Linked DNA regions of Homo sapiens: regions 2, 3, 4 and 5 are each linked to region 1. The links come from fine-mapping of genetic effects on gene expression. A gene starts in region 1. Each other region holds a variant in brackets. All regions are shown on one strand. Distances are between the middles of the regions.

Region 1 (6,274 bases):
TAGAAGGCTGGGGCAGGAGAATTGCTTAAACTCGGAAGGCAGAGGTTGCAGTGAGCTGAGATCGTGCCACTGAACTTCAGCCTGGAGACAGAGTGAGACTCTGTCTCAAAAAAAAAAAAAATCATGTTTCATGCTTCAGTTTATCTGTTCTTTCTTTTTTTATTTTTTTTTGTGACAGGGGCTCACTCTGCTGCCCAGGCTGGAGTGCGGTGGCGTGATCTCGGCTCACTGCAACTTCCACCTCCTGGGTTCAAGCGATTCTCCTGCTTCAGCCTCCCAAGTAGCTGGGACTACAGGTGTGTACCACCATGCCCAGTTAATTTTTCCATTTTTAGTAGGGATGGGGTTTCACCATGTTGGCCAGGCTGGTCTTGAATTCCTGGCCTCAAGAGATCCATCCGCCTCAGCCTCCCAAAGTGCCGGGACCACAGGCGTGAGCCACCATGCCTGGCCCTCTCTGCTTTTCATAATCATTTTTGCATCCTTTGTTACAGGAAATGAGTTCCGAAAAACTCAGGGCAACCCAAAGTTGGACATCCTTTGCATCCCTGACTAATCACTGACACTGTAGAATGGGGTAGGAAGAAAATGAGTCTCTCTTCAACTGAATTGAGTTTGTTCTGGTGCAAGATAATGTCATCATACAATATACTTGACCAAGTCCTAATTCTCTTTATTTATTTATTTTTAATTTAATTTTATTTATCTATTTTTTGAGATGGAGTCTCGCTCTGTCGCCAGGCTGAGTGCAGTGGCACAATCTCGGCTCACTGCAACCTCCATCTCCCAGGTTCAAGCCATTCTCCTGCCTCAGCCTCCCGAGTAGCTGGGACTACAGGCGTGAACCACCATGCCTGGCAAATTTTTGTATTTTTAGTAGAGACAGGGTTTCACCATGTTGGCCAGGATAGTCTCGATCTTTTGACCTCGTGATCTGCCTGCCTCGGCCTCCCAAAGTGCTGGAATTACAGGCGTGAGTCACCGTGCCCGGCCTATTTATTTATTTTTGAGATAGAGTTTCACTGGTCACCCAGGCTGGAGTGCAATGGTGTGATCTTGGCTCACTGCAACCTCTGTCTCCCGAGTTCAAGCCACTGTCCTGCCTCAGCCTCCCGAGTAGCTGGGACTACATGTGCGCACCACCACGCCCGGCTAATTTTTATATTTTTAGTAGAGATGGGGTTTTACCATGTTGGCCAGGCTTGTCTCAAACTCCTAACCTCATGTGATCCACCTGCCTTGGCCTCCCAAAGTGTTGGGATTACAGGCGTGAGCCACAGTGCCCGTACTCTGATTCTCTTTAATTCCTAGTAAATATAAGCCCGGAATAACTGCCCATAGGGAATTTTACCATGTGGCTTTCATTATTCCCTTCCTTCTCTCCCTCAGAAGCCGATCCATCTTCCGGATGGGACCTGGTTTTAGAGAAACAATTGAACAGTTTCAAGCAACAGCTTTCTTTTTCTTGGTCCTTATCCCCTCCTGAATTCTGCACATCTGTTTATTTACTTGTTACTTCTCTGCCACCCCCAGGCTGTTGTCACGTCTTTGTCCTGTTTGTCAGGAACCATAGCACTATATCATGCCTGTCAGGTGGCGGAGATGCCACAAAAGCAAAGCTCCATGAATGAATGAAAAATATAATTATTAAAACATCGAAGGAACAGCAGGATTAGATCACCCCAGAAAAGTCACCTCAAATATAACTTGTGTCTGGGACAAAACTGGGGAAAAGAAATACAACGTAGAGAAAGTAGCGCGATCAGAGTAAGTGTTCTGGGGACTCTGAGTTTCTCCACGATTTACGTAGCACAGGAATATATATATATATATATATATATGTATATCTTTTTTAAAAAATTAAAGATTCAAGCTATTTTTATCTGTCAAAGGAATATAGATATGTTCAAAGAGACAGACAGTGACAGTTCCCTGTGATCTTCCCTTTCCTTCCCAAGATAATCATTGATAACATTTAGGACCACATTCTTTCAACATTTTTCTATGTTTTAAACACACACACACACCCTGAATTAGAGATCATAGTATACCTACCCTTTTACATTTATGCCTATCGTTTTATTAATAATACCTTTAGTCTTTCCATGTCAATACATACAGACCCACCTTTAAAAAAATGAAACAATACCGATGTGTCTAAGGTAAAAAGGCCAAACTCTTTCCAATCGTTTCTATCCTTTTAAACAGAGCCTAAGCGAGCAGAGGCCCGGTGGCAGGGATCTTCACTCAGCCGCCCTCCCTGTGCGCGCTCAGTGCTTCCACCCAGGCCCCAGGACGGTGACCGCGGACTATCGCGGGCCGCCTAACCGCAGGGACCCCTCCCATCGCGGGTCACCCCCAAGCCTGCGAGAGGGGATCTGTCCTTGCAGGAGGGAGGCGCGGGGCCGGGCTGGTCTCCGGCCACAGCGAGTGGCCCCGGAGCAAGGTCAGGGGCGGTATCCAACAGCCCCGCGCCCTGCAGAGCCCTCTACTCTTAGGAGGACTGCGCGCAGGGACCGCCACGCAGAGTGGTTGCCATGGTGACTGCAGAGTGAGCGGTCCCGGGTTTTAGAGGGAGTCGCGCGCTTGGAGTAGGGGAAAGAGGGAGGCCGAGAGAGGACAAAGGGACAGGAGGGGAGAAGTGAGAAGGGTTGGCGGGGGGGTGAGGGGCTGAACGCAGTGGACGGGAAAGGCCAGCAAAATGGCGAGAGAAGGGACACAGGCGAGAGGAAGGGGGAGTGGAGGCGAAGGGGCGAGGCAGGAGCCGACGCGGGGGCCACCTGGAGCGGTGAACGGAGAGCGCGGCCTGGCGACTCCAAGACCCGCTGCCCCTCGGCCCGGCTTACCGGCCCGCCGCGCCGCCCGGTTCCGCCATTTCCCGTTGCTAGGCGACGCTGTCAACATCCGGCCGGGCCGGGACCACGCGCGCTGCGAGGGCGGGGGCCGCCGGGGGCGGCGCGGCCTTTGTGCCATCTCCACGCACGCAGAGGCGCGCGCCGTCTCGACGTGTCGTCCCTTAGACTGTAATGATTAGAGCACGACCATGCTTTTCCTTTATCGCTCTCTGCGCCCGGGTCCCGCCTCGGCTGCGCTCAATTTCTGTAAAGCGACAGCGGCGTCAGCGTGTGCCCAGCGGGCGGCTCGAGGTCCCGAAGGGACCTGCCGGGCACCTGGGGACCCCGGACTGCTAAGCGCCCGGGAATGGCAGGCGGGCTGGGGGCACCGGGGGCCGGGGACCCCGCGCATGGCGAGCGCTTTTCCATCTCCTGCCCTAGGGGGCTCCGGTGCCCTTCTCCAGGGGTCCTACGGAGACTCCTTGCATGGACGCCCGGGGGGTCTTCCGGAGCGTATCTTCCCTTCCTAGTCCGAAATAGGAGAAATCTCCCTGCAGAGGGCGGCAGCGGAGGGCCAGCGCGCACGCGGAGCGTCCGAGGAGCCCTGCCTTTCCTTTGGGGACGCCAGGCTCGGGACGGGGCACAGTCCCCGAGGCCGGGACGCGGCGAGGCCTGAGGGAGGGCCAGCAGGGAACTAGAGGCTTGGGCCCAGGGCTGGGCCAGAAGGTGGGCGGGGAGACCGGCGGGGGCAGGCAGGGGCCGGGCCGGGGGCGGGCCCGGGGGCGGGCCGGGGGCCGGGCCTCCCCGCGCGTCCCCGCCCCGCCGCGCCTCACTGGCGGCGGCAGCGGCGGAGGCGACGGTGGCGGCTCTCGGAGCCGGCGCGAATCCGGCCCCCGCAGCGGGACCCGGGTGGGTATCGGGGCCCGGACGGGGCCGCGGGGGCGGGGTCCGAGGGGTCCACCGCGCAGCGAGCAGCGCCCCCTCGGCGGAGCTGGGGCGGGGGCGCGCGGGGCGCGTGGGGCGCGTGGGCCTGCAGCCGCGGGACCGGGGAGGGGCCGGGGTCCGGCCGCCGTCCTCGGGGTGCGGGGCGCCAGCAGGAGCGGGAGCGTTGTGGGAGGACCTGGATCACGGAGGGGCACCTGGGGACTTTTCCCCGCGGCGAGTGAGGGCGCCCGGGCCCGGAATGGGCCTAATTCGGGGAGACTGGTCCCCGCCTGTCTGGAGCGGTGGACCGGGGAACTTGCGGTCTTTGTCTGGCTGAATCGGCGGAGCAGACGGATGAGAACTTGTGGGGTGCCGGCGCGCGCCCACACAGCCTCCAAAGTGTGCGTCCCCCCAGCAGCGCGCGCTCAGCTTTCCCGGCCTGTCGGGCTTGGTGGTCTGGGCTGTTTAAGATCCGCGTGTCGGGATACTCACTTCCGTTCCGCCTGGGCTCCCTTGTTCTTTCCTTTGGGAAAAAAAAAAAAAGAAAAAGAAAGAAAGAACGAAAGGAAGGAAAGAAAAAAAGGAAAGGCAACTGAAGATTGCTAAACATAACCTAGGGGATCCTGCCGGAAGCCGCTGAATCCTGAAATCCTGTGATTCCCACACTCGGAAGCTGGTGTCGTATATTGGCCACAAAGTAGTTCAGATTTGATTCAGAAATAGGAAATGAATAGAAAAGACATAACAAAAGTTAGTCTCGCCTTATGGTAAAGTTTGTTTTACTGTCTGGGTCAAGTTCAAATGAGAAGCTGGGCTGATTGGCCAGCCTCTGCGACTTGATCCTGAAGATCTGCTTTCTTTTCTACCAGAAGGCTCCTAATTCTTTTATCTGGAATAAAAAGGGAACTCCGTCTTAAAGATGCTCACGTGAGGCGGCATATTGCCAGAGGGTGGGCGCAAAGACTGGGGGCTGGAGATTCCATTCCAAATCTGTTACTGATTGATCAGAACACTTTTTCAAATCCATGCCTCAGTTTTAGAAAATCCTCATTAGAAACGCTAACAGTAAAATTGGTGAATACTAAACACTTTTAAGAACCATGAAAGCTTTTGTAAATAAAGAATAAAGTGAGGAGTAACTTTTGGTATTAACTACAAAGTTCATTAATGGATGTTGTTTGCATCCTGAGCGTGGTTATTGTGCGCATATTTTTTTGTAAGTGGCATGTTTATGGTGAGACTATGGCTAACGAAAGTTTTTATGGCGAAAGTTTTTATGGCTGGGCGCCGTGGCTCACGGCTGTAATCCCAGCACTTTGGGAGGACGAGGCGAGCGGATCACCTGAGGTCAGGAGTTCGAGACCAGCCTGGCCAATATGGTGAAACCCCCCATATCTACTAAAAATACAAAAATTAGCCCGGTGTGGTGGCGTGAGCCTGTAATCCCAGTACTCAGGAGGCTGAGACAGGGGAATCGCTTGAGCTCGGGAGGCGAAGGTTGCAGTGAGCCAAGATGTGCAACTGCACCCCAGCCCGGGTGATAGAGCAACATTCTATGTCTCAAAAAAAAAAAAAAAAAGGAAAAAAAAAGTTTTTATCTGTGGAATTATTTAATCCTCTAGCAATTTTGGTGATTGCGTTAGTAGTTCCTAATTATCATGCATGAATTCACTTAACCCACAAAACAAGCTCATGAAGTCAGGACTGCAGTTATGCCCATTTACAGATGGGAACACTGACGCTTAGAGAAGTAACTTCCCAAGCTCATGCAGTTAGGAGTGACAGAATTAGGCCTTAGGCCCAGGACGTCCCAGCTCCAGAAAACCGTTGTACAACTTTGCCCTCTGTCTTACAGAGGGTGCCCACCATTCATATACAAACATTCTTCCAAGTGGTTCATAACAGTGCAAGGAGGTGGGACTAATCCCATGTCACCACTAGCTGCTAATCTCAGTTCACTTCAGTATGGAAAGCATCCCCCAGGCTTCAGGATAAAGCCATTGAGTTTGCAGAACCTACCTACAATTGCACTGGTCTCTGTCCACAGTTTTGGGTAATAAGGTGCAGTGGTTAAGAACATGGCGTAGAAAGATGGACTGCTGGCTTCAAATACAAATCCTGGACTGGGCATAGTAGCTCACACCTATAATCCTGTATTTTGGGAGAATCACTTGAGCCCAGAAGTTCAAGACCACCTTAGGCAACCTAGAGAGACCCTATCGCTACAAAAAATGAACAAATTAGCTGGACATGCTGGTGGGCACCTATGGTCCCAGCTATTTGGGTGGCTGAGGTGGGAGGATAGCTTGAGCCCGGGAGGTCAGGGCTGCAGTGAGCCATGACCAGCCTCTGCATTCTAGCCTGGGTGACAGAGTGAGACTCTGCTTAAAAAAAAAACCTAAAAAACCCAAACAACAACAACAACAAAACAACAACAAAAACCCCAACTCCTCTGGCACTTAGTTAATTCTCCAGTGCCTTAATTTCCCCATCTATACTACCTACTTCAGAGACTT
Region 2 (6,274 bases), 85 kb after region 1:
TAATAGTTTATGTTCTGAGCTCAAACGGGAAGGCAGGTGCGGTGAATGCGGCTGAGTCTCTGTGGGGTGCTGCAGTTGGGGTCCAGAGCTGAGTCTTGCCTGTACTCCGGTTTTATTTTAGCAGACATTTGCTAGACATTAAATCTCAAGAGAGTGTCAGGCGCGATGGCTCACGCCTGTAATCCCAACACTTTTGGAGGCTGAGGCGGGTGGATCACCTGAGGTCAGGAGGTCAAGACTAGCCTGGTCAACATGGTGAAACCTCGTCTCTACTAAATATATAGAATTAGCTGGTCATGGTGGTGGACGTCTGTAATCTCAGCTACTCAGGAGGCTGAGGCAGGAGAATCGCTTGAACCCGGAAGGCAGAAGTGGCAGTGAGCCGAGATCGCACACTGCACTCCAGCCTGGGTGACAGAGCGAGACTCCGTCTCAAAAAAAGAAAAAAAAAAGAAAAAAGAAAAAAAGAAAAAATCTCAAGAGACAAGATTTAACCTGTGAGGTGGCTGAATCCATATAATAAGATATTTTGCAATTTGGAATGTAACAAACTCATAAAAAATAACAGAATAAATGGGGTTGTACTGCTGAACTGCAGACAGCTGCACAGTATGCTGGTGAGAACATGGGCCACAAAGCTTGGGTTCTAATCTCAGCTCTACCACTTGCCAGCTGTGTGACCTTGGGCAAATTACTTAACCTCTCTGGGCCCCAGTTGCCTCTTCTTTACAATGGGGTAATACCACTATTCATTTCAGAGGATTTTTGTGAAGATTAATTGCAATAAAAGCACCTGAGAAGCATTAGCTCAGGGCCAGGCCCATAGTCAGTGTTTTAATAAATGCTGATGATGTTATTAATAGTACTGAGAACCCAAATGTTTCCTAACCAAAAGCATAAACTGAACCAGTACTTTTCAGGAATACAGTGAGCTGGTTTAAACCACGCGGAAGCCCCATGCTATCTAAAATCATCCCAAAACAACCAGTTTTAGTAAAGCCCAGCCCCACGCTGTAGGGAAACCCAGCCTTGTTATTCTCCTGCCTTCTTTATCCATGGGAAAACGAAGGCTGAGAGAGGCTTGGTGGCTTGGCCAAGGTCACACAGCGAGGAACCCCAGTCAGTGTGACCTTGGCTGTCAGGACGATGATGACTTACTGCCTCTATTGAAGTGGAATGGAATTTGATCATGAAAATGCTTTCCCATCCAAGTGGAAGTAGAACTGTGCAGTGGGGTTCATACATTCATTTATTCACAGGTGTTTACAGGGCATATTCAGCCGTGCCTGTATGTGTGTTTAAGCTTGGTGCGTAGGTTTAAATGACTCCCCCATGACCCCCGTCCCCCTCTGGGTAGTGTGGGCAGGGAGAAGTGTGGCGATCATCACATAACCTGTTCCACCAGCCCCCCGTCCAGCTCCGACGCCGGCCTGCGGTTCCCGGACAGCAACGGCCTCCTGCAGACCCCACGCTGGGACGAGCCGCAGCGGGTGTGCGCCCTGGAGCAGATTTGCGGCGTGTTCCGCGTGGACCTGGGCCACATGCGCTCCCTCCGCCTTTTCTTCAGGTAGGAAGCATCTCTGGGCGCCTCCTGGGAGTTGGCCTGTGTGTGTTTTCCCTGGCAGCCTGGGCTTTGCAGCCGGTGCAGTGCACGGCTTGGGGACACAGGGCCCTGGATGGAGTCTTCCCAAGCGTCTGCTTTCCTCCCTCGCTGATCTTGTGGGCAGTGATTCCCCACTGCAGCTCCCTGACAGTTCTCAGGCTGGGTGAGCTACCGAACTCACTCCCCTACCTTCAGCGTGATGGTAGCCAGCGGTTGCTTGCAACTCTGGCTTGGGAGAAGAAACCAAACCAGGGCAGAGGGTAGCAGCTGCCGGCGGCTCTGATCGCCGGGGGATGCTCTGGAGCTCGGCCACCTGTGCGGGACGGGCCGCAGCTTTCCGGATGGAGGCTCCCTTCCTTTCGTGATGGGTGGGCGATGCCTAGTTTCCTGCAGTCATTCCCCACACCAGATCCTCCTCCTTATAGTCAGGGCTGCCCAGCCGCAGACATCACCAATGAGAGGCCCGGGCTTAGAAGAAGCCGGCGTGTCCAGAAGCTGGGGGGGTTCCCAGACCCAGAGCCACATTCCAGCCTTTCATCTAAGGGCAGCCGGGGCTGGGCTGACAGCACTGACGGATGTTTACTGAGTTTCCCTGGAGGGTTCTCCCAGAGTTCCACCCACACGCAACGAAGGAGGTCTGTTCCCAGGAGGTTCTCTTAGCACATGGCCTGCCAGGGCTCAGAACTGGATTCCAGGGCACTCAGCGTTGGGACCCAGGTCTCCCGGACTGCAGGGACCATGTTGCCGGGCAGGGGGTGGTGGGGAGAAGGCCACTCTGGCAGGTCTCCAGAGAGGAGCTCCAGGGCCCCCCAGGAAGGAGCAGTTTTGCCATCTTCGGCAAAGGGGGTGGTGGTTTTTGTTCGGTGTAGTTCTGTCCCCTCCCGCTAGCAGCCAACTCCACTGGGACTCACTGTTTCCTGCTTCTGAGGTTGGCGACAGTGGCCTCTGATTATACTTGGAAATAAAACCCCCGTGTTTACATATTCATCGGGCTTCCCTCTCCCCCTTCCAATGGCCCTTCAGCGACGAGGCCTGCACCAGCGGCCAGCTGGTCGTTGCCAGCCGAGAGAGCCAGTACAAGGTTTTCCACTTCCACCACGGCGGCCTGGACAAGCTGTCTGACGTGTTCCAGCAGTGGAAATACTGCACCGAGATGCAGCTCAAAGACCAGGTAGCCCAGCAGACGGCCCCAGAATGCCCAGCGGTTGACACTCCCCACCCCCCACGGGCCCCATCTCCCTCCTGGGTCCTGTGTCTGGGGTCCCCGGGCCCCGGGGGCTTACGGGGTGTGACCCACGGTAGTTTTTGGCCGTCAGAGCAGCAACTTTGGGTTTGAAACCTTTGCCCAGGGCTTTCGGTAAAGTCAGTGCCCTGCACTTGAAAAATCATGTTTTGACAAGACTTCCTGCCATATTTTGCTCAATCTACGTACAAATGTAATAAGAGCTCTTTAATTATCTGTTTAAGGTACTGTATGTGCTTATTAGAAATGGGGCCGATTTTAAAATTCCCTTCCTTCCCGCAGAGCCTCCTGCTGGCTTCCCTTATTACAGTAGCATGGCTTTTTTTCCCCCTACATTGAACAACCTTTGATTTTTGAATTAAATGTCAGCTGCAGTTTTGCCCTGGATTCGTGACTGCTC[G/A]CGGAGGCAATCTGACAGGCTGGCTCCCTGCTCGCAGAACAGCGATCCCTTTGTATGTGGCCAATCACATGTAATTCATTGCAGGCCCTCCCGGCAGAGGGAAGTTAGGCCGAACGAGGCATTCATTCCGTTTTTGCGGCTGGGGTTGGAGAGAGTGGGGGGCGGCGGCACAGTGGGCCGGGGAGGAGAGAGCCGCAGAGGGAAACCGATTTTAAGATGAAGGTATTTTCATTTTAATTGCGCCTAATTACACTCGCCATTTAGGGGTTTGTATGCAGGGGACGGCCCTTGCCCTCCTTTCAGAAGAGAGAGAGGCTTTTATTCCTGGGAAAAGCACTGCTGGCCTCTGAAGCCGCGCGGCTGAGATCCTGACCTTTGCCCAGTTTTCCTCCCGTCCAGCAGGTCGCCCCCGATAAGACATGCATGCAGTTCTCCATCCGCCGCCCCAAGCTGCCGTCCTCCGAGACGCACCCCGAGGAGAGCATGTACAAGAGGCTCGGCGTCTCCGCCTGGCTCAACCACCTGAATGAGCTGGGCCAGGTGGAGGAGGAGTACAAGCTGCGGAAGGTGAGGTCCGGGTCCGCCCAGCTGGCCCCGCGGAGAGCCGGCCGGGAACCGGGAACGAGCGAGAGGGAAGGAGGGCCGGGGCCTGGCCGCCCGCCCGCACCCACGGGCCACCTCCTCGTGAGGGCCCCGTTTTCTTGTGTGAGGCTCTCTGTGAACACACCGATAAAGCAATCAAAGCTGCTGCGTTGAAAAAAAAAAACAAAACACAACACCTCCCTCGAGGGTTTGGGGGGATACCGTGTCAGCCTGCATAGAAGGGTTTGCAGTGAAATGCAGCATTTCCAAAACCAGGGATTAGGCCATGACGTGAGAACGACACGTTAATCTGAGCGCCACCCCAGGGGGGGCATTGACATTGAAATGAGCCGGGTTTGTGTCCTGTATGGGAATTGAAGGCCACTGCTTTCCCCTTGTAAATATGTGCAAATTGCAGAGATCTGAATCAAGGCGCACCAAAAACCACCAAAACACACATCTCTGGGGATTTGGGGGTTCTTTGAGCTGCCCCATTTTATCCCCTCCCCAACTTTTGCCGCTTCCTCCAGGCCATTTTCTTTGGCGGTATTGATGTGTCAATCCGCGGGGAGGTCTGGCCCTTCCTGCTGCGCTATTACAGCCACGAGTCCACGTCGGAGGAGCGGGAGGCGCTGCGGCTGCAGAAGCGAAAGGAGTACTCTGAGATCCAGCAGAAAAGGTAACCGCCGGGGCCAGCCCGGCCCACCCCGCCGAGCCGCGGAGGAAAATGTCATTTGAAAAGGCAATTTGAGGTGCAATTCAGCATTGATAATATGTTTCGTGACCCATAGTTTCTTTCAAAAATGGGTCTCCCAGGAACGTGAGTGATAGGGTGGGATAAGTGCAGTCATTAAACCAAGCACTCGGGCCTCGGAGCTGCGGGGCTCGTTAGCTCACATGTCAAGGTTTTAGAATTCTCGTTCAACAGACTTAACTAGGCGCTGACGTCCCACAGCTGAAGGCTGGGGCTGGGAGCAGGGCCTGGAGGGGTGAAGGCATCCGGAGACTGTGTCCCACTTGGGATCTGCTAACCCGGGACTGGGCTCAGCTCTCTCTCCAGGAGGCTGGGACTGGGTGAAGCCCCTGGGCTGTGCTCAGCTCCCCTCCAGAACGCTGGGCCAGGGCCAAGGCCTCATTACCCACTGGGCTGCAACTTGCTCTCCTTCCTGGGACGCTGGAGACTGTGAGGCTGAGTTAATATCAAGGAGAGCCTTGGATACACGCCACCCATCCGCCGCATCCGGGGAGGGTCTGCAGCCGGCAGCAGCCGCCCAGCTCCCGTCCAGGGAACGGGGGTTGGGAGGAAGGGTGGCTTCCTGCAGTGTGTGCGCCACACGATGCCTCTGGGTGCCACCCGCTGACCCCGGCTGGGTGCTCGGCTCCACACAGGCTCTCCATGACTCCCGAGGAGCACAGAGCGTTCTGGCGTAATGTGCAGTTCACTGTGGACAAAGACGTGGTCCGGACAGATCGGAACAACCAGTTCTTCCGGGGGGAAGACAATCCCAATGTGGAGAGCATGAGGTACTCCCTCCCCAGCCAGCTCCTTTCCCATCTGCAAGTCTGCAAGCCTCACCTGACCGCTCTGGGAAGTGGATGAGCCCCCAGCGAGTTTCTGCAGGGGCTCTCTTCCAGGTTCATACATCAAAGCCCCAGAAGTGAAGGATACGCTACTCATGAGCTACGTCAGTTGGCATCTCAGAGCCATGGCATCCCAGGGAAGCCACCCAGGTCCCTGCCCACAGAGCCCCTCTATCCCCTGGGCACCACCAAGCCTGTCCTTGCTTGGCTCACACTAACCATGGACCAGCTTCCCCATGCACCCCCTCCATCTCCCCGTGGGTGGTCCCGTAGTCATACAGCCACACAGAGCCAGAGGCTGGCATCTGTGACATTCTGCTACAGCCTAGCAAATAATTGCACAAAATTAGCAGCCCACAGAAATGTCCCTGCCAGCCCACCCCTTGTCACAGGCAGTCCACCCTTCAGAAAATCAGAGCCATGTTCCCCCTTAACCCCTGCTCTCAAGATTCTGGGCCTAGACAGCAGCTAATAGCAGGCCATTACTTTTTTTTTTTTTTTTGAGACGGAGTCTCGCTCTGTCATCCAGACTGGAGTGCAGTGGTGTGATCTCGGCTCACTGCAACTTCCGCTTTCCGGGTTCAAGCGATTCTCCAGTCTCAGCCTCCCAAGTAGCTGAGATTACAGGCGTGCACCCCACCATGCCCGGCTAAGTTTTGTATTTTTAGTAGAGACAGGGTTTCACCATGTTGGCCAGGCTAGTGTCGAACTCCTGACCTCAGGTGATCTGCCCACCTCAGCCTCCCAAAGTGCTGGGATTGTAGGCGTGGGCCACCGCGCCCGGCCAGGCCATTACCTTTTGCAAAGCAAGGGTCTGTGTGTCTGGAAGCTAAGCTTGGGCTCTGAGATGGTGGCACAGCTGCCT
Region 3 (6,274 bases), 100 kb after region 1:
ACAGGGCCCCGTGGCAGCCCAAGGGCAGCCTGCAGACGCCAGTGTGCCCGGCTTCTCCCATGTTCTGAGATGGGGGAGGGGAAGGTGTAAAAGAGAGCTGGATGGGGGCTGTGGGGACTGAGGGTCCTGGGAGGCTGGCCAGGGGCTCAGCAAGCGCCCACTTTGGGAGGCCTTGCCCTCTGGGCTGTGGTTGGACAGCACTAGGCCTGCAGGCTGGGCTGCCAGGAGGAAGAGCAGCTCCGGACCTCAGGCCCCCCCAGCAGGCGGCGATGGAGGGTGATGGGAGAATTGACGAGTGCTCGCGGGGTCTCACTCGGGAAAGGGCCGGTTAACTCTGAGCAACTGGGAGCCTCGCTCCCACCCCAGTGCCTGGAAACACAAACAGTATTTTATTGAGCCTTGGCTGCCGGGGCTCTGGTTTCAGGAAAAGCCTCAGTCCTGCATTTGTGAATTTTTAAGGAGGCAAACAAGGTGAATTTGACCTTCCTAGGAGTGGGAGTTAGGGAAAATTCAGGCTGCCCTACCAAGCCCTTGGAACCGTGCAGCAGGGGTCAGGGGAGGGATGGGCAAAGGCGGTTTGGCCCATGGAGCAGGTCTCCTGGTCCTCCCGGAGCACGGGGGGCGGGGAGCTCCAGCTCTTCATCAAGCGCCCTTTGGGGTTTCCAACTGTTTTCTGTTGTTCTCTGTGTGTCTTTTCCCCTTTTGCCTGGGGGCGGGGGCTGGAGGGGAACATACCTCTTATCTACATCACTCGGGTCTCATGTCTGAAGGGCCTGTCTCACCTGCCACCTACCTGGCCTTGGCCTCGACATCTGAGCGCCTCATCACCTCCTCTCCACATGCCCAGGGGTGCCCCTCCCAAGGCTGGCTGGGCAGGTCCCACGGACTAGGCCCCAGGAGGAGCAGTGGGCTTCCCCCAGGAAAGAGCAGAGCCAGCACTGCCTGCCTAGGGAGGGCACCCACTACCAGGCATGGCTGGTGGCTCCGTTTAAAGAAATCTTTGTCCATGTGGGAGTGGGAGGTGCTTCCCCATCCTGCCTGGAAGCCACGTCCTGGCTCTTACCGTGGACTCTGCAACAGCCGTGGTGGCCACATGAAGATGGAGGAACCTGGTGGCTCAGGGGCCCCTGATGTCACCGCCTCCAAGGCAACGGGACTGGGCAGGGCAGCTCCTCAGGAAGGATGATCCCACCTGCACGGGTCAGCCCTGCAGGGGGACAAGGCCCACCACAACCCCACCTCAGGCCACCAACTGGACCTGTCCTGCCAAGAAGGTCCCTTCCAATTTGTCCGGCAGCTGGTTCCCTGGATACAGCCCAGACGCAGCATCATCCTCATGTTCACCTCTGCTGTGCCCTACTTCCCCCGTAAATGACAACTGTGTAGTCACCCACGCCGGGCAAGAGAACATAGGTGCCACCTGGCGGGCCACACTTTTCAGGGGCCGTGCCTCGGGCAGGCCCGGCTCTCTGTTGTCCCGCAGCCCTCAGGGCTGGCGGTGGCTGCTCAGTGCCTAGGGAGTGCCCTTGCCACACAGCTGGGCAGCGAGCATGACTCAGCGTTTACACTCAACCAGCCGCACAGGCTCCAGAGGGGAAGTTCTCTGGGGTCCTTCTATGAGAGAGCATCCTGTCTGCAGCCCTGTTCTGGCTCCTTCCACATCATTCATGCATTCATCCCACGAGGACTATGGTACCGTGGGCTCGCTCTAGGGAAGCAAGGCAGGAGCGCACTGGGGCTACTTGGATTCCCGGGGCAGACACATATGTACCCTGCACACCCTCAAATGAGCAAAGCCACCCCACTGGCCCCTGGGTGAGGCCATGTGGACCCCCACACCTTTGGGGCCGGCTGGGCAAACCTTGAACCCCCAATTTCTGCGTGGCCTTTGGCTGCCCTCCTTCTCCAAGGCGTGACTCTTACTCCAGAGACTCAGGCGAGCACGTGTCCCTTACCTTATTTTCTCTCAATCAAACTGAAACCCATTGTGATCCCCCATAGTCCAGTGCGGTCTCTGTTATTATTACGGGTGTCTCCCTTCCTCCCCGTGCCCAGGACAGGCCATGAGCCAGAGATACAAGGGGCCCCAGGCAAGATGCAGGGCTCTCTGCTCCTGGCTCTTTATCGTCGTCGGGACACCCTTTGTCCAAACTCAAGGAATCCCGGGAGGTCTGGCTTTGCCGCTTTGGCTGGGACTCAGGTACCTGGGCATACCTGCATCTGTGCCCCCTCTTCGTCCCAGTGAGACGGACCCTCAGTATCCCCCCCAACATAGAACAGGAAGGTCTCAAGCCAGCCCCCTCCTCCAGTTCAATCACCCTCCCTCACATCCACCCAGAGAAGTCCAGACCTGTGGCCACTTCCATGCCCTCTCCAGACCAGGAGACACCTGCTGCTGACCTCGTGGAAAACTTAGATTTTGACATTCTGATGCTTCGGAAGTGGTGGCTCCTCCTCCTTCACCCCTCCGCCACCTGTGGGCCTCCTCTCTGCATCTCAAGAGAACAACCAGATCTTTGGGCTCCTGGGGTGTGTGCCATGCAATTTAGACGAAGTGCTTTGAAAATATGCCATTCAGTCTCTGACTAGGAAAATAAGTCTGACCTGATAGGTCCGATGTCATCAGCTCTTCAACATGAGACAAAAGAGGGGATTTTATGTTTTGAGTCATTAGAATGATATAATAATTTTCTGAATTGACATCTGGATGTTGAAATTAGGATGGTGCAAAAGGGGTCCAGGGCCTCAGGCTGGGCGCAGCAGCCAGCTCCCAATGACGCAGAAGCTGCTTCAAAACCCCCTCAACAAAGAGGGGCACATGCAAGTCACCAAAGTGGGAAGCCTTCACCAAGGCCACACCCAAAGTCTACTGATTGTCTGTCCAAAGTTCGTTGATTCCTGGCCATGAACAAGCACAATAGAAAAAGACACAGGGTCCTAGTGGCTACAAGTCAATGTGAATTGGCACATGGTCTAGCAGTTTTAAAATCTGACAGTAGAGTATGGCAATGGGCAAGGGCCAAGAAGTCCTGAGATGGGAGGTCAGCGCTCTAACTGGGCTCAGTGGAGGTCTGTGACCAGTGTCTGGACACTAGCTACAGGGGACCGGGCAGAGGATTCTGGGCAGAAGGAAAATGTCTAAAAGTACTTTGGGAGGGTAAAGGACAGGGGCCTTATTTAAAATAAAGACTGAAGGATAATAAGTGTCACCCAGGTTTGTGGATTA[T/A]TGGAGGGGGCACCATCTAGCCATTCTCCACTTTTCCAGTGTGGAGAACCTGGGCAAAGGCGCCAGTGGTCACATGAGGTGCTGCCACGGGGCGGGCTCTGGGAGACCCACTCTAGACCGCTGACCTCTTGGTGCCATCCATTCTGCCTCCTAGAACTCTGGGGTTCTGAGTGCGTGCTCTTGGTGGGGGCCTTCCTCTTTGTTGGGAGAGCCGCTGCTGAAGGGGCCTCTCCCTCTGGCCCAGGATGTAGAGGACACGTGAGGACTACACAAGTGCAGGGGTGGGTGCGGGGGTGGGTGCGGCTTTCCAGCCCTCGCCTTCACTGCACTGGAAGCCTGCTTTCTGGTGTGACCTTTGGGTTCCCTCTCTGCAAGCAAACAACCAGCTCAGACAAAACCAACCATGACCACATCTCAGGTGGGTGGCACCTGGGTCACCCTCCCACCACAGCCCCTGGAGCAGTTTCCAGGTACCTGGCCTCCACTGTCTATTCCACTCACCTCCTGCTGATGTGGACAACTTTAGAAATAAAGTACCAGGGACCCCAGACCACTAGGCAAGAGCCCAGGTGCCCCCTGGGAAATGCCACCACCCACCCCAAGAGCAGGGTGGGGTCTAGCTCCTGAAACAGTCTCCTCTGGGCAAGTGCTGCCTTTCTTCAAAGTCCAGGCGCCCTCTTGGTTGTTGGATAAATCCCCAGGTTCTGCCCCATGATTCATGTAGACGGGAGTTTCCCCCGGTTCTCTGTCTTTCTGCCTGGCTGGGCCACAGATGAGTGCCCCAACCCGGCAGACAAACAGAATTGGACTTTTAGGGTCAGAGGCAGCCAGCCTGAGATGGAGTAGGGTGGGGGCTGGGGAGGGTGTTGGGACCCCGGGAAGGGGATGAGGACATTCCAGGGGAGGTGAACTGTTTGTTTCCCTGGAGGGTTAGACAAAGAACCGAGCTCTTGCAGATTTTGCCGGAAATGCAACTAGAGCTATTGATAGGGTTGAGGATGGGGTCTTTCAGGGTGGGTGAGTCCCTGGAGCTGACTAAAGATTAGTGTTAGTGCAGGTCAGATGAGGAGCTGCCCCCACAGGTGTCGCTCCAGGTGCCCACAGCAGGGACAAACCCCCGCCGACCCCCTGCCCCACGGGAGCTGGTTGCAGCTTCCCCTCCGCCTCCCCCACCCCACCTCTCTCTGTCCCTTCCCCCGTGCAGTGGCCTCAGGGTGGCCACCCACCTGCTCCCAGGGGACGTGAGAGTGTTAGCAAAAGCACCATGCCCTTCCCCTCCACCCTCTGGAGCCTTCAGGGCAGCCCCAAAGCGGTCCCAGTGTCTCTGAAGGGGCTGGGGACCCGGAGTCTGAAATTCAGCTGATGGGTCACCAAACTGGCCTGGCCTCTGAGCCTCTGCACCGATCCTCTCACCCCATCAGGTACCTGAAGCTGATCCAGGACACCAAGGTCTGTTTGTGTGGGGGGGCTGCCAGCTCCCCAGAATCTGGCCCACGATGGTTTTGATTAGAGGAAACACCCCACCAGAAAGCATCCCAGAGATACCTAGAGACCCCCTGTGGCTTCCCCAAAGTGTCCCCTCCCCTCCCCACGACCTGAGAGGCTGCCATGCCCACGGCACGGGCCCCCTGGGGTGCTGTCCTTTCTAGAAAGCAGGTTCCAAAGGTGGGGTTCGGGCCTACTTGGCACAGGGAGGCTTAGACAGAAAGCGGGACTCCCCTCTGCCACGGCCCCCCAGACCCCGGCCGGCTCCTCGCGAGGCTGGACCCGCCTCCCCACCCCCTCCTTCGTGCGGTCCTGATGAAGGCGCCGCGTTTTCCGAGACGCAGAACTGCTGTGGGGTGTCTGCAGAGCCCGGGCTTCTCACCGGGAACTGCTCTCCTGGGACGGAGGGCGGCGGAGGCCTCCCGGAGCCCCCGGCCCACCTGAGGCCTTGGGGGCGGGGTCCGTGCGCCGCGAACCCCACCGAGCCGGGCAGGAGGAGGCGCATTTGGGCACAAAGGGACCTCGCGTCCTCAAAATAATCCTCGCCGCTAATTCCCATTCCAGCAGGAAGAGGCCGGCGCCGCTCACATCCACCCCATTTTCCGCGGAAGGGGCTTTGTTGCTTTTCTTTTGATTTCACCCCAGCGGGCGCGCGATCCCGCCCGGCACACGCCTGGCCTCCGAGCCGCTGCGTGCGGTTCTGCCCAAGTCGGGGAAGGAGGGGCGCGCAGAACGGGAGAGGGCTGGAGACGGGCACAGAAGGAGAGGAGAGGAGAAGAGAGGAGGGGAGAGGAGGGGAGAGGAGGGGAGGGGAGGAGAGGAGAGGGGAGGGGAGGAGAGGAGAGGGGAGGGGAGGGGAGGGGAGGGGAGAGGAGAGGGGAGGGGAGGGGAGGGGCGGGGTGCGAGAAGGGGCAGCAGCCCCCGGGCCCAGTCATCCAGCCACGTCAGGTGTGCGTCGGGTAAAGGTAGTAACCTGGTGGCGGTGACGAGGAGGCTGGAGAACGTGCAAGAGGAGGCCGAGCCTCAGAGTCCCAAAAGTCGGAGGAAACTCCCCACCTCCTGGAGCCTCCCACTTGCTGTAATTCCCTGCAGTGACCCACCCCACCCCAACCAGGGCAGCGAAGGACCCACCGGGCCCTGGCCCCAGGCCCCTCTGAGCCTTCCACCCACCCTGCCCAAGCCCTCACCCAGCCCAGCCCTAGAGCCCGCCTGTAGCCGGGACACCGCACCACTCCCTCCACCCTCACCCTCAGCCGCCAGCCCCTGTCTGTCCCTGTCCAGCCCACCCTCTCTCTATAAAACCTGAGCAAAGGCAGGAGACCCTCCCGCCTCAGAAGAGCAGCAGCACCCCGGGCTCCCTGCAGCTCTCTACGGGGCGGGGGTGCAGGAAGCCACAGCGGTGACCACCAGGGCCAGGGCCCAGCAGGCTGGGAGCTGCTGGCGGAGTGGGACAGAGTCCTCACCAACCGAACCGAAGTGCAGTCTGTCTGCCTGATGGATCCCTTGTCATGGGGACCCACAGGCTTGCAGGGCCTGTTTTTCTTGAAAAGAAGGTTTATTTGG
Region 4 (6,274 bases), 35 kb before region 1:
CTCAAGCAATTCTCTCACCTTGCCCTCCCAAAGTGCTGAGATTACTTGAGCTAGCATGCCCACCAGGTGCATTCTCTTTTTTGAGACAGAGTCTCGCTCTGTTGCCCAGGCTGGAGTGCAGTGGCGCGATCTCGGCTCACTGCAACCTCCGCCTCCTGGGTTCAAGTGATTCTCCTGCCTCAGCACCTGCCGCCATGCCTGGATAACTTTTTGTATTTTTAGTAGAGACGGGGTTTCACCGTGTTAGCCAGGATGGTCTTGATCTCCTGACCTCGTGATCCGCCTGCCTGGGCCTTCCAAAGTGCTGGGATTACAGGCGTGAGCCACCGCGCCCGGCCGGAAGGTTTGATCTTCTGTCCATACCACCTGAACTTTCTCCAGACGCGCAATTAGGCTGCTTCCCTTTCTTTTGTGTGTTCATTAGAGCAGCACTTTAAATTTTCTTCAAAAACTTTTCCTTTGTGTTCACAACTTGGCTATCCCTTTGGTGCAAGAGGCCTAGCTTTTGGCTTATCTCAGCTTTTGACATGCCTTCCTCATGAAGCTTAATCATTTCTAACTTTTGATTTAAAGTGAGAGGCGGCCAGGAGCGTTGGCTCACACTTGTAATCCCGGCACTTTGGGAGGCCGAGGCAGGCAGATCATTTGACGTCAGGAGTTCGAGACCAACATGGTGAAACCCTGTCTCTACTAACATACAAAAATTAGCCGGGCACGGTGGCAGGCACCTGCAATCTCAGCCACTCGGGAGGCTGGGGCAGGAGAATCGCTTGAACCCGGGAGGTAGAGGTTGCAATGAGCCAAGATCGTGCCACTGCCCTCCAGCCTGGGGGACAGAGTGTCTCAAAAATAAATAAATAAAATAAAAATAAAGTGAGAGGCATGAGACTCTTCCTTTCACTTGAGCACTTAGTGGCCATTGTAGGCCTAATTTCAATACTGTTGAGTCTTGGAGAATAGGGAGGCCCAAGGAGAGGGACAGAAATGGAAGAACGCCAGCCGGCGAGCAGTCAGTACACACACGACATGTCTTGATTCAGTTTGCTGTCTTAAACAAGGGCAGTTCGTGGCTTTGCCAAAAACCAATTACAATAGTTAACATCAAAGGTCACTCATCACAGATCACCATAACGGACGATGACAATGAAAAAGTTTGAAATATTATGAGAACGACCAACATGTGGTGCAGAGGCAGGAAGTGAGCACGCACCGCTGGAGAGATGGTGCCGGTGGACTTGCTCCACACGGAGCTGCCGTCAACCTTCAATTTGTAAAAAATGCGATTCCTGTAATCCCAGCACTTTGGGAGGCTGAGGCGGGTGGATCATGAGGTCAGGAGATCGAGATCATCCTGGCTAACACAGTGAAACCCCGTCTCTACTAAAAAATACAAAAAATTAGCAGGGCATGGTGGCATGTGCCTGTAATCCCAGCTACTCTGGAGGCTGAAGCAGGAGAATTGCTTGAACCCGGGAGGTGGAGGTTGCAGTGAGCCAAGATCGCCCCACTGCACTCCAGCCTGGGTGACAGAGTGAAACTCATCTCAAAAACAAACAAACAAACAAACAAACAAACAAACAAAAGCGATTCCACGCAGTAGGAGAAAGCGAGGCACACTGAAACGAGATGCGCCTGTATTTACCCGGGAGAAACGGAAACACGTCTCCATGCAAAGATCTTTTCAGGACAGCCACAGCAGCTTTCTTCACGGTATTCCAAAGGTAAAAGCCAAATGTCCATCAGTTGGTGGATGGACAAATACATCTGATGTATCCGTGCAAGGGAATACTATTCAACAATAAAAAGGAACAGACTACTGATCTTGCAACATGGGTGGGTCTCAAAAGCATGATGCCAAGTGGAAGAAGCCAGACAAGAAAAGCTACAGACTGCGCGATTCCATTTATATGACATTCTAGAAATGGCAGAGCTATAGGCACAGAAGGCGGCACAGCGGTTGCCAGGGCTGGAGGTATGCAATTTTGTACATAAATTATCCCCAGTCATCCTGACTTCAAGTAAATAAGTTACTCATTTTCTTTTTTTAGGAAGGAGCAGCCTTATAAATGTCTAAATTTGACAATAAAAATAAGATGCCCAATTTAAAAAGATACAGTTACAAACTGTGCAACAGAACTCCTAACACTCGGGGAAATGTGTGCCTGAGAGTGTGCTGACATGCTAATGAGTCTTCTTGTCACAAAAAGAGAAAGTCGATGGTATTTTTAAATCCTTTTCTCTGTTTTTCAAATGTCCTGTAACGCAATCACTTATCCTTGATAAGGATTATTATTTTTTTAAATCGTACTTTAAAAACTCCGTAGATCAGCAGGCACCAATAGAAAGTACAGGTTCTCCTCAGCTTACGGTGGGGATGCAGCCCGGCAAACCCATCGTAAGTTGAAAATATCCTAAGTCCAAAATGCAGGCTGGTGCCGTGGCTCACGCCTGTAATTCCCAGCACTTTCAGAGGCCAAGTGGGGGCAGATCACCTGAGGCCAGGAGTTCAAGACCAGCCTGGCCAACATGGTGAAACCCCGTCTCTTTTAAAAATACAAAATCAGCCGGGCATGGTGGTGGTGCATGTCTGTAATCCCAGCTACCTGAGAGGCTGAGGCAGGAGAATCACTTGAACCCAGGAGGTGGAGGTTGCAGTGAGCTGAGATCGCACCATTGCACTCCAGCCTGGGCGACAAGAGTGAAACTTCATCTCAAAAAAAAAAAAAAAAAAAAAAGCTGAAAAACCCAAAATGCACTTCCTGCAGATTTCCTGCCAGGCACCCCGGCTCAGCCCAGCCTCCCTCAAACGTGCTCAGGACACTCCCATGAGCCTACAGGTGGGCAAAATCATCTCACACGAAGCCTGTTTGATAATAAAGTGTGGGGCATCCATGTAATTTATTGAATACCGTGCTGAAAACCAGGGAGGTTGTGTGGGACTCAAAGCCCAGTTTCTGTTGCCTGCCTGTTGCTTTAATACCATGGTAAAGTCCAAAAATCGTGACGTCGGGGACTGTCTGTAAATGAAACAAAAAGAACGGATGGAATCTGGAATATGGCCCAGGCATTGGGCACCGTGCCTCTGAGGATTAAGGGGGGGACACAGGAGGTGTCCAGCAGCCTGTGGTCAAGGCCGGGTTCTCTCCCAGGACACTGCCCGTGGCTTTTGTCCTTGGGTCGGCCTGCCTGGCTGCCGTGGCCACAGCTGAGGGCCTGGGAGGAGGCTGTGAGGCCGTGTGGCTGACCGAGTCACATCTTGGGGTAAAGGGGCTGTGGCTGCGGGCCAAGACCTGTCTGCCCTCTGTATTTCCCGCCAGGAAATAGGACAAAGGCAGGTAAGAGCACGGGTGCTTTTGGCTCCAAGTCCCAGGCGTGTGTGAATTCTGATTAGGTTATCTGCCTCCAAGTTAAGTGCGGTCCAGGCTTTGTTTTCTGAAAGTGAAAGTGACCCATTTCCCTGCGTATGTGATGGGAAGGGGCTGACCGTGGGCTCCTCGTGGTTATTCACCTAGCTTTGGGACCCACGTTGGATTGCCTGGACCGCTGCGGTCTTTGAAGGGTTGGTGTGGCAGGCCCGGTCTGGTCTTGAGGGTCACACACGGTTCCTTCAGGACTTCTGGCTGCTGGGGAGGGCAGTGTCCAGCTCCCACAGGCAGGCCCAGATGGACAGGGGGTGTGCCCACAGCCACGGTCATTCCC[T/C]GGTGGGAAGAAGGGACAGGACACCATGAGCTACCACAGCAGTCCTGACAGGCCTCACCCATGCCCCTGTGTCTGGGGACACTTTTTTATTTTTTTGAGACAGGCTCTGGCTCTGTTGCCCAGGCTGGAGTGCAGTGGCACCATCTCGGCTCACTGCAGCCTCGACCTCCTGGGCTCAAGCAATCCTCCCACCCAGCCTCCCGAGTAGGTGGGACTACAGGTCTACAGGTGCACACCACCATGCCCCGCTAATTAAAAATTTTTTGAGAGACAGGGTCTTGCTCTGTTGCCCAGGCTGGAGTGCATTCGTGCAATCACAGTTCACTGCAGCCTCAAATTCCTGGACTCAAGTGATCATCCTGCTTCTGCCTCCCAAGTAGATGAGACCACAGGCACACACCACCACACCTGGCTATTTTTTATATTTTATTTTAGAGACAAGGTCTTACTTTACTATGTTGCCCGGGCTGGTCTTGAACTCCTGGGCTTAAGGGATCCTCTTGCCTCAGTCTCCCAAAGCACTGTGATTACAGGCAGGAGCCACTATGCCCGCCCATGGGGGCACATTTTTAATGGGGTTGTTACTCTGTCTTTGGTCTGTGGCCTCAGGTCTGCTGGGTCACCAGTGTCCTTGGGTATATGGGGCATTGGTGGTGACTGGGACCCACCTGCCAGATCCCCAGGCTAGAAGGAGGCCTGCTGGGGACACTGTGGCAATGCCCACACCCAACCCATCCCACACTGCCTTCCGCTCCTTCCTCCTCCATCAACTGGGGGCAAGGACAGTGTCCCCTTTGAGGGGCTACACCAGACCGAGCTGAGCCTGGGGCTTGTTACCCAGGAAACAGTGAAATCACCCGCTCGTTGCCTAGCTCTAATTCTGCGTTCAGTGTCTTGCTCCATCCTGTCCTCCCTCCCTAGGGCAGGCTCCAGCACTCCATGCCAAGGGGAAGAGCCTTTGAGGAGTCGTCTCTGCCATCATCAGGACTGAGGGAAAAGGAAGTCTAGGAGATTAGGGCAAGCCCTCAGTTTTCTTTTCTTTTCTTTCTTTCTTTTTTTCTCTCTCTCTCTCTGTCTCTCTCTCTCTCTTTTTTTTCTTTTTCTTTCTTATTTTTTTGAGACGAAGTCTCGCTCTGTCACCCAGGCTGGAGTGCAGTGGCACCATCTTGCTTCACCGCCACCTCCACCTCCCGGGTTCAGGCGATTCTCCTGCCTCAGCCTCCTGAGTAGCTGGGACCACAGGTGCCCGCCACCAGGTCTGGCTGTTTTTTTGTATTTTTAGTAGAGACGGGGTTTCACCATGTTAGCCAAGATGGTTTCAATCTCCAGCTCCTGAGCTCGTGATCTGCCCGCCTCGGCCTCCCAAAGAGCTGGGATTACAGGCGTGAGCCACCGCGCCTGACCCCTTCAGCTTCCTCAGGTCGACTTAAACAGGAAACAGAATAACACGTTTCATGTTTCTCCTGAACTTTTATGACCGTGTGCAAAACTCCTGCAAAAATAGGGAAGACAGCAAGAAAAAGCAGCCAAGACAGGCACAGCTTCTGAGCTAAGCTTGCAGCTTGTGTATGAGACACGGGGGCAAGATTATGGTTACCGCCCCCCCCACGCAGCAGCAACCCCCTGACCAAGGACGGGGAAGTCAGTCTGTCTTCAAAGCATTAGGTTGTAGACTCGACATCAGACGAAGAGAGACACAAAGGCATGGGGAAAGAGAAAGGGTGAGGTTTGGCTGGAACCTAATCAAAGGTATTAACTTATCTGAAAAAATGCCATGGGTGTCAGGAGGGAGGAGGGGTGGGGAATGGAATGGAGAAAGCAGCCAAGGTCAGGGTGAGGGCTGCTCGCGGGACACCTCCCGCCCATGTGGACGGACAGGCCATGAACTTCGGGGAAGAAGCAGGAAGCAGACAGGGCCGGGGCCCAGGCATTCCGCCCTCTAGCCGGTCCCTGAGCAGGGGTCTGTGTCATCCGCTCCTGTGTCCTCCCCCACAGATAAGAATCTGCTAGTCCGAGCGTGGAGCATTCGGTTCTTTGGTGTTTATATTTCATCATGCACATAAATGGGCTATTATACTCAGTTACACGTCAGGCTCTGGTGAGCTCGATTCATGTAAACTAACTCCAGGACAAGTGTGCCTTCTCGGTGTGATGGCAAAACCAAGCTTCTGGGCCAGGGGGTCCTGCCCCATGGGGATCTCGCAGGGTGAAGGCTCCAGAAATGCCCAGACAGCCACCAGGGTACCGGCCTGGTATGCACCATCCTGACCATCAGCCAGGAATGTCACCATTTTCTAAGATGCTCTACAAATCTGAACATCTCAAGGTCAATATTTGAGGTATAGTTCAGTCACTGCACTCCTAGCTTGGAAGTCCTAAGCTATGCAATAATTTATTTCTGTAATAATGGCCCTGATCTATTAAACCTGTCTCCAAGTTGCTTCTTCAAATCTATCTGGGTGCAAACAGCAAATCTCTGTAATTACAGTTTATACTTCTCACAATGTTCTACACGGCCTGCACTTTTAAAAGACTGGCCGGGCGCAGTGGCTCCCGCCTGTAATCCCAGCACTTT
Region 5 (6,274 bases), 910 kb before region 1:
CACGCCCAGCTAATTTTTGTATTTTTAGTAGAGACGGGGTTTCACCATGTTGGCCAGGCTGGTCTCAAACTCCTGACCTCAAGTGATCCATCCACCTTGGCTTCTCAAAGTGCTGGGATTACAGAAGTGAGCCACCATGCCCGGCAAGCCAGTCTTAATTTACAATAAATATTCACGACGTATCTTATCATGGCCGACGTCAATACCTTGGGGACTTGGAGAGGCACAAAGGAAGCAGAAGAAAAGCAGGGACTGAAGGGAGGGGCCTGACCACCTGCTGAGGAGCAGGCACATCTGGGCTCTTGGGGTGACGGCAGCCACTGAGTACCCAGAATGAGGGCCCAGGGGCCCTGGCCGCAGGGTTAATGCCTTTGCTCAAAACCCCCAAAGCTCCTGATGCCGAGCTGGACATGTGGAAGCATTCAGCCAATACTTGTCAGCAGTGGTCAGGTTTGTACAAATTTATCTGGGTCAGATTATATGAAGAAAGTGCTAAAGTTTCAGAATAAGCTCGGTAGGGCTCTGATTCGTAACAGACTTAAGGAGGAGACATGGGTGTGGTCGCCAGGATCCACATTGCAGCCAAAGTCCGGGGGTCTTTCAGTCTAGAATGGTAACTATGAACTTCCTTGACTGAGGGATCTATTACAGAATCACAGATTTAACAGAAGAGGGGAACGTGGACTTAACCACCAGGCCCCCAAACACGAGCACTAGGAAGTAAGTCCCTTGTGACTCTAAAAGGCTTTTTTCTAGAAGGAACCATAAAAGGAAGCTAAAAATGCAGAGGGCGCAAGATGGATTCCAACACATCCTGGTGACTGAAAGGGCAGCTGGGGATCTGTGGGTGCATAAGCCTCATTGTCTGTTGTGGCACCAAGGACACAAGCTGGGCTGCCTCCTGGCCTTGGCTGCGGTCACCTGTGTGGCCTCTGGGCAACCAGGAGGGTGTCTTGGGGACCCCCAAGCCTTCCTCAGCCAGAGACATAGCTCCAGGTGGTGCAGAGAGACACCGCCTGGCTCTTACTAACCGTGTCCTCACCTGACTGGCTCTTACTAACCGTGTCCTCACCTGACTGGCTCTTACTAACCGTGTCCTCACCTGACTGGCTCTTACTAACCGTGTCCTCACCTGAACTTCTGGTCTGGCTCAGAGGACCGTTGCCCGCCTCCAGTCTTCCCTGTGGGGAGTGGTGGGCTTGTGCTCTGGCAGGAAGTGAGATAGCCAAGTATAAAGGGGTCCCCAGAGAAACTCCCACCAGCCTGCACACTGGGACAACGGGGGGAGCCACAGAAGTTGGCGCCCTTTGCAGCAGGAGGAGCCCAGCCTCCCGATCTGGGGTAGAACCTGGGATCCAATCTGCGAGGCGGGAAGTGCACCAGCAGGACTCCGGCTTTGCGGGGAGGCCCTGTTTCCCGTTTTTTCCTTCTCACCCAATAAACCCTGCCCTTCCCACCCTTCAAAGTGTCTGGGAGCCTAATTTTTCATGGTCATGTGACAAAGACCCTGTTTTTAGCTGAATTAAAAAGTCCTACAACAGAAGGAGCCTACCGTCGGGGTGCAAGGTCAAAGCCGCGCGACTTGGGCACTCTGCTGCAGGCTGCTCTGAACTGGGCTTAAGCACAGCCAAAGCCGCCCACCTCCAGCAGCTGACAGCCCCTCCGCTTGTGCCTGGCACTGTCCAGGTGGCACCAGGGCCACGGAGTCTGCGGGCTGAAGCCTCACTGATGCCTGGTGTGTGCTCGGCACCTCGGGTGAGCTACTGTTTCCAACAATGTCAGTCCCCAGCAAACACCCAGAACCACGGAAAGGAAATGAATGCCACGTTATACAAGGAGAGGCTGCACTCACAGAGGCAGGCAGGCCCGAAGGCTTTGGTGCGGCGGCAGCACCGTGTTACCCTAGTGGTGCCTCCATTCCCAGCTGCAGGGAGTTCTGGACGGAGTTTGGGCATAATTCTAAGCACTGAAGGACAAAGGGAAACCCCACCCAGCCCACGCATTTGGTACGTTTGAAAATCAGTGCGTGACAGCCAAGGTCGTGAATGTTGCCCAGGAGAAGGCTGAAGAGCCGGGCAGGGGCCTGCGTGACACAGGGCTTTCCCAACCCCGTCTCCTGGGCGACGCCGACTTCTCTGGTTCTCTTCCATCTACAGGCATCAATTCCTCCTTTTTCTCAATGCTCACATCTTTCCCAGCACACAGTTGGCTCCTTAAATGAAAATAAACGCCTGCACCGAATCCGAATTCCGAGGACAGAGGACTGGGAGGAGGGCGCGGCCTCACTCCTCAGTGACTCCCGGCACTACGCCTGCTGGCACCACGCCTGCTGGCACCATCCCCTGTGTCTTGAGGCCTCATTTGGTGGTGTCTCCAGCGGCTCAGCAGCTCCTCCTTTGTGTGTCTGGACAAACTCTGGTTTACAAATATATTCTTTTTTTTGGTCTAGAAATCTCGGTTTTGGGTCTCGAATGC[C/T]GGCTCTGTTTCGCACCCTGCTCAATTCTGACCACAGGCTCCAGGCCAGAGCATCACCTTGGCCATCAGGGGCCAGCTCATCTTCAGATGTTGAACTGTGTGAGGCAGACTCAGCTCCCAAGCCTGTCTCAGGCAGCAGGCAGCCCCCGTGTGCTGGCCATCCCAGCTAGCAGGCTGGGGTCCTAGAGAATCGCTAACCTCCAGGAAAACAGCCTCCTGTCGCCGCCACCTGGAGACGCTCATCCAGCAGGGTCTGTTCTCTCTGCTGGAGAAAGCCACCCTGGCTGCAAGGTTCAGCGGCGGCCGCCGGGGCAGCACGCACCGGATTGCAACATGCGATGCTTTAAACCTGGTCTGCCGCCAGCTCTTCAGATGCACAGAGGGCTACAAACAACCACAATTAGCTTTCAGCACAACAGCCACCGTCTGCGTTAATGCGAGATGAACCGCAGTCTTTCACAGAGAGAGCTGCGTGGGAATGCGCTTCAGAAACGTTGCTGGTACCAGAAGTCAGCAGTGTTTTCGGTGATCAGCAGAGCAGAGGTGTGAGCCGGGCCTAGGCACGCTCGCTGAGGACGCGCTCATGGCGCCTGTGCTGCCTGCGGGCAGGGCCCTCGGCTTTGGCAGGAGGGAGGACATCTGTCCTACGGGTCATCAACCTCAACTTCAGAAAGTAACCCATAATAATCTCCAGAATTTTACAGGACAAAGATGCAAGGTCAAAACAATAAACCTGCAGACTGGGGTCAGAGTCCTTGACTTTTGATGGTGCTGATTTGGTTGGGGGCAGCTTGAGGTCCCCCAGCCAGAGCTGGCTCAGTGGTGGGAGCCTGTGGCCGCGAGGGCAGGGGGAGGAGTGCGGAGACACCACTGCTGCTCCGTGCCCTCAGTGGGGCTGTAGGGCTGGGCCTGGGCCCCTGTACTCTCCTGGATCCTGGGGAGAGGCCAGGGTCCCTGGGATGGGGCTGCCTGACACCCTCATTGCTGTGTTGACTCTCAGGGCCTCCCTGCTCCCCACACAGTCTCTGTGACCGGGGCCGCCTGCAGCCTGGATCCCTTCCGCAAGGAGCTCCCTCCGCTGTCTGCGGCAACAGACACCGCCCCCTCCAGGGCTGCTCCCTGCCCCTCCACCCCGGGTGCAGCTGGGAGAGCAAACAACAAGGTAGGTGAAGGGAGCGATTTGGCATCTAGTGGCAAATCTGGGAGAAGGTTTAGGAAAATCATGACTGAGATGTGGGGTGACAGAGCTGGCCACCATTTCAGGGACAAGTGGAGGCCAGCTGAGGAAAGCAGGGCCTGGCATTTTCACTTCCTGTTTCCAGGGAAGGATGCGCCATGTGTAGGGCCTGGCGCAACGACACCTGTCCGGGTGGGGAGATGTGGGCTCTCAGAGGCCTTCCCTTCCGGAAATGTCAACATGCAAAGTTCCGCCTCCATGAGTTCCACCTGCGCTGATAATCCCGAGGGCTGAGGGCTGCCCTTGCAGAGGAAGAGGCAGGGTCCCGGGAGAGCCCTCTTCCCAGGCGGTGGCTGGGTTCCCACCCGGCCCCTCCCCTCCCCACTCTGGGCTGCAGAACCTTGAGGAGCAGCAGCTTCATCTCCACCAGCCTTGATGTGCTTATCTGCAAGGGAGGTGGGGTGCGGGGCGGGTCTGTCGTGGGACAGTGGATGGCTGGAGAAGGTTGTGCGTGGGCCGCGGGGGGCCTGCTCACAGGGGACCCTCGCCCCAGGCCCCACCCCCGGAATGAGCCCCTGGCTGGCTGTGCGGGTGCCCTTACCCTTCTGAATGACTTGCTGGGCCTGCCTCCTGACACGGCTGTTTCGCAGGAACCGCCACTCCCGCTCCTTGCGGATCTGACTCTCCAGGTCGTGCTCTTCTGGGATCTTCAACAACAGAAAACACCCAGTTAAGCCCAGCGATGAAACAGGGTTGTCTCTTGGTATCAATGGGGTATGGGTTCTAGGACCCCTCGGATAGCAAAACCTGCGCGGCTCAGTCCCCAATACGAAAGGGTGTGGCATCTGCGTACAAGCAGAACACATCCTCCGGCACACCTCAAACCCTCGCTAGCTTGCCCGCCATACCCGACACAGTGTCAACGCTGTGTAAATAGCTGCTATGCCGTATTTTTAAAATTTGGATTGTTTCTTGTTGTATTGTTATTTTAAATTTATTTTTGTTATTTACATTTGTTTTTTTATCCAAAATTGGTTGAATCTGCGGATGCAGCACCTGTGGACATGGAGGGTTGGCTGTAGTTATTTTCAGATGAAGGCACCTCTTTCTCAAAGGCTGAAGGCTTTGGGCTTCTCGTCTGGCCAGTGCACCAGAGGCACGGGCTGTTGTGGGTCCTGTGTCTGCTACAAAACACATCGCTGGTCCCTCCCCGGAGCTGGGAGAGGCGCTCTCCACGCCTGTGTTCACTAGTGTGGGGGCTCTGAGACCCTTGAGTGAGTGGCCTGTGAGGCTGACAGGTGTATGATGGGGACCAGGGCCTTGGGAAACGCCTCCCCAGGGAATGGGGGGCACTGAGGTCAGCACTGAGCAGCAGGGCAGGGGGGCACCGAATGCCGCTTCAAACACTGAAAACACAATCAGGAGGCAGGTGCGCTTGAGGAGACACTGCCTTTATTCTCTCTCTAATGCCAAAGGGAACCAGGCAGCTGGCTGGAAGATGAGGGAGCTTACGAGACAGAAGGAAGACAGCCTCATGAGAGGCCAGGCCGGGCCCCGAGAGAGTGTGGGACCTTCCTGGGCAGCAGAGGGGGTGCCACTGGGCTCCTGATGGTGGAAGAGCTAGGAGGGTGCTGAGCTGCAAGCCTGGCTGGGGTTAAACTAACTCGTGAGAACTTCAGTGCCTTCCCTAATGAGACAGCTTCAGAAAGACCAAGTTTATTTTCACTTGAAATATGCAGACGCTAGACATGCTGCTGCCCTCTCTTCCCTGAGCAAAGGTCTTCATTCACTTCAGGGCCTTTGCGTGCATGCGTGTGTGTGCGTGTGTGCGAGTGCGTGCATGTGTCTGTGTGTGTGCACGCACATGTGGGTTGGGGTGTGCACGTTCAGCGTCTAGGAGAGGTCCACACTTGGCAAATACTAACTAGGATTTAATTGACTTTCCGCGGGAGGATGGCCACTTGTCTGGGTTACGCAGATGCATTTCCTTAAGCATACATGCCGTCCAGTCAATCTGGCTAATTCTGTTCCTTGCTAAGAAACTAAGACTTGTGAAGACCCAAAATATAAAATAAATGAAATAAACAAGGTAAGAACCCTAATTCCTTTTGGCTAAAAGCAACTCTGTCTCGACAAAGGAAAAAGAGAGCCTGCATTAGTTATTAAAAAGTCGCTTTCTCTGATAGAAGAAATGGGAATAAAGACTATGGCGCATGGCCGTGTTTGCGTCCTTGCACGTAAATGTGGCGGAGAAAGAAAACGGTTTCTCCGTGTGGAGTTTTAGGCGGTCGTTGTAGGTGGTTATCATGTGCAAATGCTTACAGAGCATTCTTTGTGTCTCTTCCTCGAATGCTTTGTGTCAGCTCTGATTACAAAACAGAAACAGGCAAGCCCCAAACCTCATGTCTGACCCCGTGCTCATGGGTGGCTGTGGCTCAGTTCCTAGCATTTGATTGCTCTGCTTCCTTCTTTTTCTTCTTAAAAGTCACAAAACCACACTCGATAAAACAGCAACAACACAGCAAAAAAGACATCCAAACCCGGAAACAGTAACCACAAAAGGTGTCAAATGGCTCCCTCCGCACATTTTCTGATTTAGAAATAATCCCGCAACGGCAAATG

Direction of the effects. Alleles are on the strand shown, and positions count from the first base shown. SD is a standard deviation of normalised expression in the study named. Not every link is listed here.
In carriers of allele T in region 3, the expression in tibial nerve of the gene that starts at base 3,666 in region 1 tends to be higher than with A alone (small effect, 0.19 SD a copy in GTEx).

Evidence for each region. PIP is the estimated chance that this variant, and not a neighbour inherited with it, causes the effect.
Region 2: its variant is fine-mapped to the expression of TBC1D16 in tibial nerve (GTEx, PIP above 0.99).
Region 3: its variant is fine-mapped to the expression of TBC1D16 in tibial nerve (GTEx, PIP above 0.99). The same link has a PIP of 0.9 or more in cerebellum.
Region 4: its variant is fine-mapped to the expression of TBC1D16 in lung (TOPMed, PIP above 0.99).
Region 5: its variant is fine-mapped to the expression of TBC1D16 in pancreas (GTEx, PIP 0.96).

Annotation. Positions count from the first base shown.
Region 1 is chr17:80,033,264-80,039,537 of GRCh38, reverse strand. It overlaps TBC1D16 (TBC1 domain family member 16), which reads left to right and starts at 3,666. Exons shown (of 12, transcript NM_019020.4): 1 at 3,666-3,743. It overlaps CCDC40 (coiled-coil domain 40 molecular ruler complex subunit), which reads right to left and starts at 2,896. Exons shown (of 20, transcript NM_017950.4): 1 at 2,847-2,896; 2 at 1,352-1,415. The coding sequence starts at 2,875. RefSeq lists enhancers at 2,094-2,388, 3,288-3,407 and a silencer at 3,598-3,667.
Region 2 is chr17:79,947,950-79,954,223 of GRCh38, reverse strand. It overlaps TBC1D16 (TBC1 domain family member 16), which reads left to right. Exons shown (of 12, transcript NM_019020.4): 4 at 1,406-1,567; 5 at 2,627-2,774; 6 at 3,646-3,813; 7 at 4,359-4,507; 8 at 5,218-5,352. Among named protein-coding and RNA genes, the nearest start is that of LINC01979, 24 kb to the right of the region's middle. RefSeq lists enhancers at 2,153-2,736, 2,737-3,320, 3,905-4,488, 4,489-5,072, 5,073-5,656 and 1 more. The variant G/A (reference allele first, on the strand shown) is at 3,247.
Region 3 is chr17:79,929,278-79,935,551 of GRCh38, reverse strand. It overlaps TBC1D16 (TBC1 domain family member 16), which reads left to right. Exons shown (of 12, transcript NM_019020.4): 12 at 1-3,209. Among named protein-coding and RNA genes, the nearest start is that of LINC01979, 5.7 kb to the right of the region's middle. RefSeq lists an enhancer at 3,821-4,040. The variant T/A (reference allele first, on the strand shown) is at 3,227.
Region 4 is chr17:80,068,293-80,074,566 of GRCh38, reverse strand. All of the region lies in intron 10 of CCDC40 (coiled-coil domain 40 molecular ruler complex subunit), which reads right to left. It overlaps LOC124904074 (a long non-coding RNA gene), which reads left to right and starts at 3,031. Exons shown (of 2, transcript XR_007065931.1): 1 at 3,031-3,335. The variant T/C (reference allele first, on the strand shown) is at 3,700.
Region 5 is chr17:80,938,581-80,944,854 of GRCh38, reverse strand. It overlaps RPTOR (regulatory associated protein of MTOR complex 1), which reads right to left. Exons shown (of 34, transcript NM_020761.3): 25 at 4,254-4,359. Among named protein-coding and RNA genes, the nearest start is that of CHMP6, 50 kb to the left of the region's middle. The variant C/T (reference allele first, on the strand shown) is at 2,476.